Linked DNA regions of Homo sapiens: regions 2 and 3 are each linked to region 1. The links come from fine-mapping of genetic effects on gene expression. A gene starts in region 1. Each other region holds a variant in brackets. All regions are shown on one strand. Distances are from middle to middle. Region 1 holds the start of ACKR3 (atypical chemokine receptor 3). Region 2 has its middle 23 kb from the start of ACKR3. Region 3 has its middle 30 kb from the start of DRC11.

The links.
Region 2: its variant is fine-mapped to the expression of ACKR3 in blood mononuclear cells (TOPMed, PIP 0.99).
Region 3: its variant is fine-mapped to the expression of ACKR3 in whole blood (INTERVAL, PIP above 0.99). The same link has a PIP of 0.9 or more in T cells and blood mononuclear cells.

The regions. Positions count from the first base shown.
Region 1 is chr2:236,568,440-236,571,199 of GRCh38, reverse strand. ACKR3 (atypical chemokine receptor 3) reads right to left here and starts at 1,375. Exons shown (of 2, transcript NM_020311.3): 1 at 1,276-1,375. RefSeq lists an enhancer at 2,139-2,760.
Region 2 is chr2:236,545,525-236,548,284 of GRCh38, reverse strand. It overlaps a transcript of ACKR3 not described here. Among named protein-coding and RNA genes, the nearest start is that of ACKR3, 23 kb to the left of the region's middle. RefSeq lists an enhancer at 1,863-1,912. The variant G/A (reference allele first, on the strand shown) is at 1,556.
Region 3 is chr2:236,535,859-236,538,618 of GRCh38, reverse strand. It overlaps a transcript of ACKR3 not described here. Among named protein-coding and RNA genes, the nearest start is that of DRC11, 30 kb to the right of the region's middle. RefSeq lists enhancers at 356-405, 1,509-1,728. The variant G/A (reference allele first, on the strand shown) is at 1,580.

The DNA.
Region 1 (2,760 bases):
TCCATCTGGGGAAAGCTCATATTCTGATGAAAGAAGGGCAAGCAGTTTATCCATTTAAAATCTATGGAAAGTTAAAGCACAGAAACCAGCAGCCTCCACTTTCTTTGCTAGGCGTGCCTAGCTGATGTCCACATTTTTCCTGGAATAAATAAAGGGACACTAAAAGCAGCATCTGCCTTTAAAAAAGAAAAGAACAAAGTTACCATGTTGAGACTTTGCAGACTGAAGTTTCAGGGGATGTCACTGCACCAAATACATTCAAAGGGCTGTAAACCATTTAAGGAGGCTCTCTCCCACTTTTGAAACACTAAGTAATCCTGTTGTGAGCAAAAGGAAAGAAAGAAAGAAAGAAAGAGGAAGAGAGAAAGAGAGACAGCCAGTCTGACTTTTACAACTTCTCATTCTCCCTGGAAGTTACAAGTCTTGGCTAACCACCCATCCCTGACCTCACTCCAAAGTTCTCTCAGTCACTCCTTGAATCTTTGCACATGCCAACAAAATTGAACAAAATCCACATTTTACCTGAAGAGTATATTTAAATTGCAAAATAGTAGATTTGTGTGTGTGCTTCCCCCAACCCCAATTGAAGTTGGACTTAACACCTTCTAAGAGAACAATACTCAAATTAGATTAGCAAGCGTGCCATCAAGAGAAGAGAAGACCGGGCTGTGTTTAACATTCACGTTTATAGCTTCCGGACTTACAGACTCTGGTAAATCCCCCAAAGTACTGAATTCAAATACATCTTGGACTCACAAAGATTCTCAGCAGTTTTCTGCTCCATTTAAGGATGCCTCTTAATAAAGTGTTCATCATTCTGGAATTACGTATTTACTGCCAATTTTATCTGTTTCCAAACTGATATACTAGAAGCAAAACAGGTAAACAGTGGGTGCCAAGCTAATCCCCATGCCAAATTGGTCAGGCAGAATGGATAGTCTGTGTTCTTGCAAAGTTCCCCTGCTTACTGGAGCTTAAATAGCCACACAGCAAATAAACACCAGATTCCTAAATACACATGGAAATTTCCTTCTGCAAGTGACTTAAGAAAACTGCCCTTTGCTTTCTGAAGAGAAAGGTGAAGCCCTCCGAATTAGCAAAAGCACTTTGCAATGCAGCTGCGTGCAGCCTGGGTTTTCAGAAACCAGACCCGCAGACTCAAAAGCACCCATCTGAGCGATTTTAAAGAAGGCCTTTGAAAAGACCACTTGGCTTAAGAGCAGAAGCCGTGCCTTCTTTCCGAGCAGAGCTGCTGCCCGAGCACCGTTTCCTTACCTCCGGGCTGGCTGGGCTGGCTGGGCTGGCTGGGCTCGCTCGCCTTCCTGGCTGTGCTGTGCGCTGGCTCCCTTAGTGCTGAGCACTTTGCAACAACTGTGAGCTCTGCTGGCTGCAGACTTGCATTATATACACTGCAGAAAGGAGCCTCTAGCCTCTAGATGGCAGCTTTGTAACCCACATCTCTCTCTCCCCCGTGCCACCCCCATCCCACAGGCAGACACACACACACACACACCCCCCTCTTGTAAACCTCACTAGTCTGTTGTTTCCTGCACAAGTGTACTCTTGGGAAACCCCAGCCTTCTTTCATTTGCAAAATCTGGTGAAGCCACAAAGTCCAAACCCCACGGGGGGAAAACGTCAGCCAAAGACAAACTGCAAAGAAACCCTAGTGCTTGGCAAAATCATCAAATATTTATCTGGTCTCAGGTATATCTTGAATAATCCCATTAACACCAAGAGCTCCTGTGAATGCCTCTTCGCTCTAGGGAGGACTTTGTTCCCAAGACAAATTACTCTGAACTTCTGAACTTCGATGTTGATTTACTAAGCCTGGGTTTTCCTTGTTAATTCCTCCAAAACAGAAGTAACAGTTTTGGTATGACCAATGAATCGATGCCACACCGTATATCCCCAAAGTGGAGAAAAGAGTCTTTATAATAGATTATACTTGAATACTTTTATTTGTAAAGGACTTTAAGTACAAAATCCTTGAGACTCTAATCAAGATAGTATTCTACAGTGTCTGCCCAGTGCCAGACACGCATTAGGAAGATAATAAATGCCTTTTGATAATGTCTTTTTCTGAGATGAGTCTGGCAAACACTTTACTACAATTATTGCAATCTACATTCTTATTTGGATGCGTATTGCTAAAGTTCCCCCCACGGAGGAATTCAACCTAAAAATGTGATCCAGGTGATACTCATCTCCAATGCCCCATTTACAAAAATCGTCCATAAGATAGGGACCCAAAGGCCACCCGCCAGCCCATCCCATGTGCAATGCTCTGGCTTTCGTATTGCTTTCTGATCTCCTGGAGTTCTTAAAGAGCGGCTCAAGTGGAGTGTATGAAGGCACCAGCTGTATTCACGCCTTCTCCAGAGCTAAAACTTTTCGAGATTCTTTTTATACTTCTACTAAAAATAACAGCAGACGCTCGGTCCCAGCGCTGAATCTGGGGGACTGGGAGGTCAAAGTCTCACGTGGCTAGAAAGTCTCCGTGTGGAGAAAGCCCTTAACGAAAGAAATATTTTGTTTAGCTAAAAGCTTCACATTTTTCTCCTGAACTGGCTGCCCAGCGGGAGGCGAGGTGCACACCTGCTCTCCGGGGGCCTCCGGAGGGGTCGCCCTGGGGCCGGCCTTTCCCAGCCCGAGCGCAGCGTCCCGCCACCGCCTCTGCAGGGCGGCGCAATCACTCTTCGTGTCACATCGGCACCAAGGACATCTCCAGGCTCCCCAGAGACGCTGGAAAGGAAAACT
Region 2 (2,760 bases), 23 kb after region 1:
TAGGCCTCAAACCATTCCCTGAATACCACTGATCATGAGTTCATAAGAAAAAAAATTAAATCATAAAATACATGAAAAAACCCAAGATACTATGAGAATTAAGCAGGAACAACAAACAGCAGGATCAAACCTGTAAAACTATAGTTATTAAAATTATCAGATACAGACTGCAACATTAGAATGTAGAAAAAAACATAGACATGGGAAATGGGAAGGAGAAATGAAAACTAGGAAAGGCCAGTGGGAATGTGGAAGATATGTCTAATTGCAATTCCAGAAGGAAAGACTTCAGAGAATGGGATGACACAACAATCAGGGAAAGTGGCTCCTCTGAGTTTTCCAAATTGATGAAAGACACAAATCCTCAGATTCAGGAAGCACAACAAATCTCAGGCAGAAGGCATTGGAAGAGCTAGCACCCAGATACGCTGTAAAAAAAAAAAAAATGAATGAAAGATAAGAGGGAAGATCTTAAAAGCAGCCTGGAGAAAAGGCAGACTGCACAAAGAATAGGCAATTAGATTGAAATATGACTTTTCAGCTGCAAAAATGGAAGCCAGAAATCAGTGGATTCATATCTCTAACATGATGAAAGATCACAGCTGTCAATCTAGAATTGTAAGCCCAGGATAATTACCTATTAAGAATGAGTGCAAAAATTTAAAAAACATTTTAACTATCAAAAAATTGAGTTTTCTGCCAGCAAAGCTTCCTTAAAGGAACTTCTCAAAAGGTTCCACTACTTAAAGGAATAAAATGGTCTCAGGAAAAAAATGGTCTGATATGCAAGAAGGAAACGTGAACAAAGAAAATAATCTGCTTGTCGGTAAATCCAAACCAACTTTATACATATATTTGTGGAGCCTATTCTTTTGTGTATAAAGAATATACATTCTTTGACAGATAAGCCTAGAGATAAATTTGCCTCTCTAAAGAACATTTCTCAGTTAGGACCTGAACTTCCATAAGTATACTAACACTTTTATACTGTAGGACTTGAAATATGTTAAAAAGCAAGAAGAAAAAAACAAGAATAATATTTGTAAACAGTCATTAGCTCTCTATAAAGAGGCTCTGGGCAACTTTTATTTCCTTCTTCACACTGTACTAGGTTTTCTGCAGTTTCTAGAATCATTATTGCTGAGGTCTCACAACCACCTGTCATCATGACAATGTGTGTCTATGGACAGGGGTGATGGATGCCATCTAAGACAGGTGGAATAAGAAGTCTCCACCAACCTCCAACTCTCTGACTCTAGAGTCAATGCTGCTGAAGCCCGACAAGAGAGGATGTACTGTTCAGGGGAAGACAAAAGTCACAGGGCCAATGCTGCATTGATTTACAGTGGGAACAACCACCTCCAAGGCCAGCCCCTTTCTCTCCCTGTAGGCAGCTCTTAGAGAGAAGCCAAAACATAGTGAGAACATGCTTTCACTGGGGTGGATTCAGAGCAAAGGAAGTGGGCTAAGTGAGCCTCCTGCATAACGGTCACAGGAAACACAGCCTCCTTGCCCTTCCTGCCAGTGGGCTGGGTCGCCCAGTCCCCTGAACGAG[G/A]CTCCCCATCCCCAGGCAGGGTCTGGATGGCACTGCCCACATCTGTTTGCCTCTGGTGCTCTGCGCACTCTCTGCTGCCCAGGTTCTCCAACCCTCTCTTCCTGTAGTGAGTAAAGCTTCAGGCAGGAGGGTGGTCACGTCTGGCAGGCCTGAGCGCCCTCTCCACGGTGACTGGCTGTCTGCTCATCTTTGGATGTTACAATTTAAATCTCAGAGCACACTCTGATACCTGTAAATTTAATTTATCATTATAACCACCAAAAACTGACAACAAATTTTATTAAATTTATAGTGGAAAAGTATCTATGTAGTAAAAATCACAATGTGAACTAGCCCTGCCCTTGTGGAGAGAGATGGACTCAGAGAGACAGAGGGGGAACTTCATTGATCACTGAAGTCAAGAGGTGTGTGTCAGTGAGTGGGCCCTGAGAAGCCGTCCTTCCAGAAGGAGGCCTCAAAGAGGTCCTTTTCCCCCAGGGGCACACCTGTCATCAAAGTACCCATTGTGCCTACAACGATGTAAAAAATCATCTTCCTATCACAAATTCAACAAACTTAGCTAATTATCTAGCTTCTCCTGGGACCAAGAATCGTTAGAAAGAAAATTCTGGTACGGGAGCAAAACATCGCATCGTTGGTGCTTCACAACTCACAAAACGTGGTCCTGTATTTTCTCCAGGAATACATGCAATGAGTCTCTGAAAAGGAAGCAAAACTTACAGTGGTGAAACGTGGCCCCTCCTTTGTAGTCGTGCTGAGAAACAGAGAACAGCTGTCCACAACTTCATTTCCTTTCTCGCAGACTTTAAAGTTGGGGCTTTTCAATTCTCATTACGCCGTATGTTTTCGGTGTGTGAAATTCAACAATGATACACTAAACCAGGCAAATAATTTAATAAATAAACATGACTTCTCTTTCTAATAATATAAATTTATTTGGCTTGGAAAACACAGTGAGCTCTCCCCATAAGAACTGTAAAGTATATTCCCAGGGGTTTTATTTTACATCCCCAGATAGAAGAGATTCCGTGTCATATACCATGAAATCGTAGTGTTTCATAACCAAGTTGTAAAGTGCAGCACTGAAAGTTGATTTTGTCCGTCTGCCACACTTTTATTGACGATTTGATACACTCATTCTTCCCCGGAGCCCTAATATTTTGTGCACTCTTCTTGCCATACCTTGAACATCATCGTCTAAACAT
Region 3 (2,760 bases), 33 kb after region 1:
TTACCCCAGCCACTTCTCAGAAGACAGAAAGCAAGCTCTGCCCCGGTCCACCTTAGAACTGCAGCCCCTTTCCATGCTTGGGGCCAGTTTTGCCATTGATTTCTCCAAGGGACTCCTCAGTAGGAGGGTGGGGGTGGCAAGTCTTGCCATCCATCCAAGGTCAGGGTGGTGAGCCCACAGCACCTGGCTTCCGCTGTGGCCACAGACAGAGCCCAATCTCTGACTCGGATGGATCCTTTTGACCACGTTTTTAGTATTTCAAGTTGTGAAAATATATCATCACTGTGTTGCTGTTTCATTTCGGCAATCTGTGTCTGTTCTGCTTTTCTTTTCAGGAGACATCTAAAGCTCCTGTTACTTTGCAGAACACACTCAATAACAGTTAATCAAGTCAGGGATTATGGCCACACAAGGTTTTTAGCAAGTTTCTGAGAAGTCAAATACCAGGTGTGATGTGTGCTAGTATTAACCACGCTGCCCAAGGAAAGGATCTGGCTTATGTATATTGCTTTTCACGCTAGAAAAAAAAAAGAAAACAAAACCTCTTTGAATCAAGACCTGTTAAGAGTTGTTTGGGGAATTATTTTTAAAAGAACTATTCTTTTTGGAATACCTACTTCCAACATAAACACTTTCTTATTAGGTTATTTTTATTTTTCTAGCCTAGCAACTAAAAAAATGTAATCTGCAGAACTGATTGCCTAATAGAAGCACATTTGCTTGCTTGCTTGAAAGAGCATGAATACGCATTAGTGAAAGAAAGAAAACTGAATTTGATAAGAACATTAACCCTTTTGGAGAAAATGCAGACAAAAGTAAAGGCGGTGGAAGAGAGCACGTGGGTGATGAAGCTGGGACACATTTTCCCTCCCTCCAGTTCTTGGAAAATTCCTAATTCTGGCTCATAAGTAATAGTAGCAAAAAGGTAAAAACATAAAATTAAAGCAGCCACGTAAAGAGGCAAAATTCTTGGGATTTAAGCCATTCAGAAGGACAAGTTGTCCAGGTCTCAATGTGTACAGAGATATCCAAGGGGCCCTGTACCACTTGCATTTATGCCAGGGTGGCCCAATGGAGAACTGCTGTTCAAACTTCAGGGTCATGGATTATTATGACACTAATAAAAATGATGAACCTGCTTCCTAGAAAAAAGCATATGCACCCATGGGCCCATACATTTACAGGCCATTCGAGAGGCTGAGACACTGCCCCAAGCCTATTCATGGAGCCCTGGTAACAATCCTTGTACTAGGCAAAACCAGCCTCCTTACCAGCTTCTGCCTCCTCCTGGCTCATCTCCACCAGCCGCTCACACTTAGGACCAAGGCAGGCTGCCCCTGGGCTTGACCTTGGCCTCCTCCATTCTCCCTGTCAGCAGGTGGCAGCCATCCCATTGCTGGTATTCCTAGAATCCAATCAGGATTAGTAGACCGCTTGCCACAGTGCTACACAGCCAGGTAACACCGTGTTTAACCAAGCAGTGGTGAGAGATTTGGGGCAGGAAAGGGGCTGAGCTTCTGCAATGCAGACAGGCAGCGTGGAGCCTCCCAATACCACTTCCTGCAGGGCCCAGGGCAAG[G/A]CCCTTGCTCTCTCTGAGTTTCTGTGTCCTCATCTGTAAATGGGAATAATAACAGTGACTGCCATAGGAGCTGCAAGGAGGATGAGATGATATTATGCATATAAAAGTGCCAGACAGTCTCTAGGCACCTAGAACCCTCAAGGGGCCAGCTGTCATAACTGCCGACAGTTCACATGCGTCTGTGTTTCACTATTAGTTTCACTTCACACCTGCAGAGGGATTTACACACTGCAAGGCATTTCCTTTGGAAATTTATTATTGTAATTCCCTATTAACTCACAATACCCAGGAGATAGGAAATAAATTATTATTCCCATTTTACAGGTGAGAAGACTAAGACTCAGATAGATACGTTAGGTGAGTTGCTTTTCTTGACTCCCAAAGCTGGTACCTTCCCCCGGAATCAGGTCATCTAGCAGAAACCCAGGAATTGAAGGTGATCAATGTTCCCTCCCCCAGATAGAAAGACATGGGTTACCCACAAGCTACAACCAAGTTCATGAACAGTGCAGAAGCCTTTCTTGTTCCCGTCATATCACAGAGCTCTCTGCTTGAACTCAACGTCACGGCTTCTCATCCCACCTTTTACTCCAGCCACTGTGGCAGCAACAAGCTTCCTGCAGGAGGTACCTGTGGGCACCTTTTCTATGACACACGCATGGTGCCCACACAGCCTGGGAATGACTCTGTGTGGCAGCCCTGGACCAAGGGAAGGCATGTACTGGATGACGGCTCCTCCTTCTGTCCTCAGGCAGACCACTCTGAGAGGCAAGTCCCCCCCAGCTCCTCAGTGCCCAGTGGATGGGATCCGGCAGCCCACAGTGGCGGCCAGCCTGAGGAAGCACTGTGGAAGACCTTGCCCTTCTCCCCACTTCACTCTCTCAGCCCTGCTCCTGTTCCCTGATATGAGCTCCCCGAACAAACCCCATCATGCTAGGCCTAATACCTGGGAGGAACCCAGTCTCCAGCAGGAGCCCTTGCTCTTGTCTGTCTCCCTTTCCTCCCACTGCCCTCCCCACCATCCTCTGCACCCACCTCCCTCTGCTGGCCCAGCTAGGGGAGCCTACCGGACACCAAGAAAAACCTGTCTTTATAAAAGCTGCTGTGACTCAGGACTCAGAAGGTCCCCTACTCCACTGGGGCCTATCATGAGGTAGAGAATGGGAGGAGAGAGAGGACCA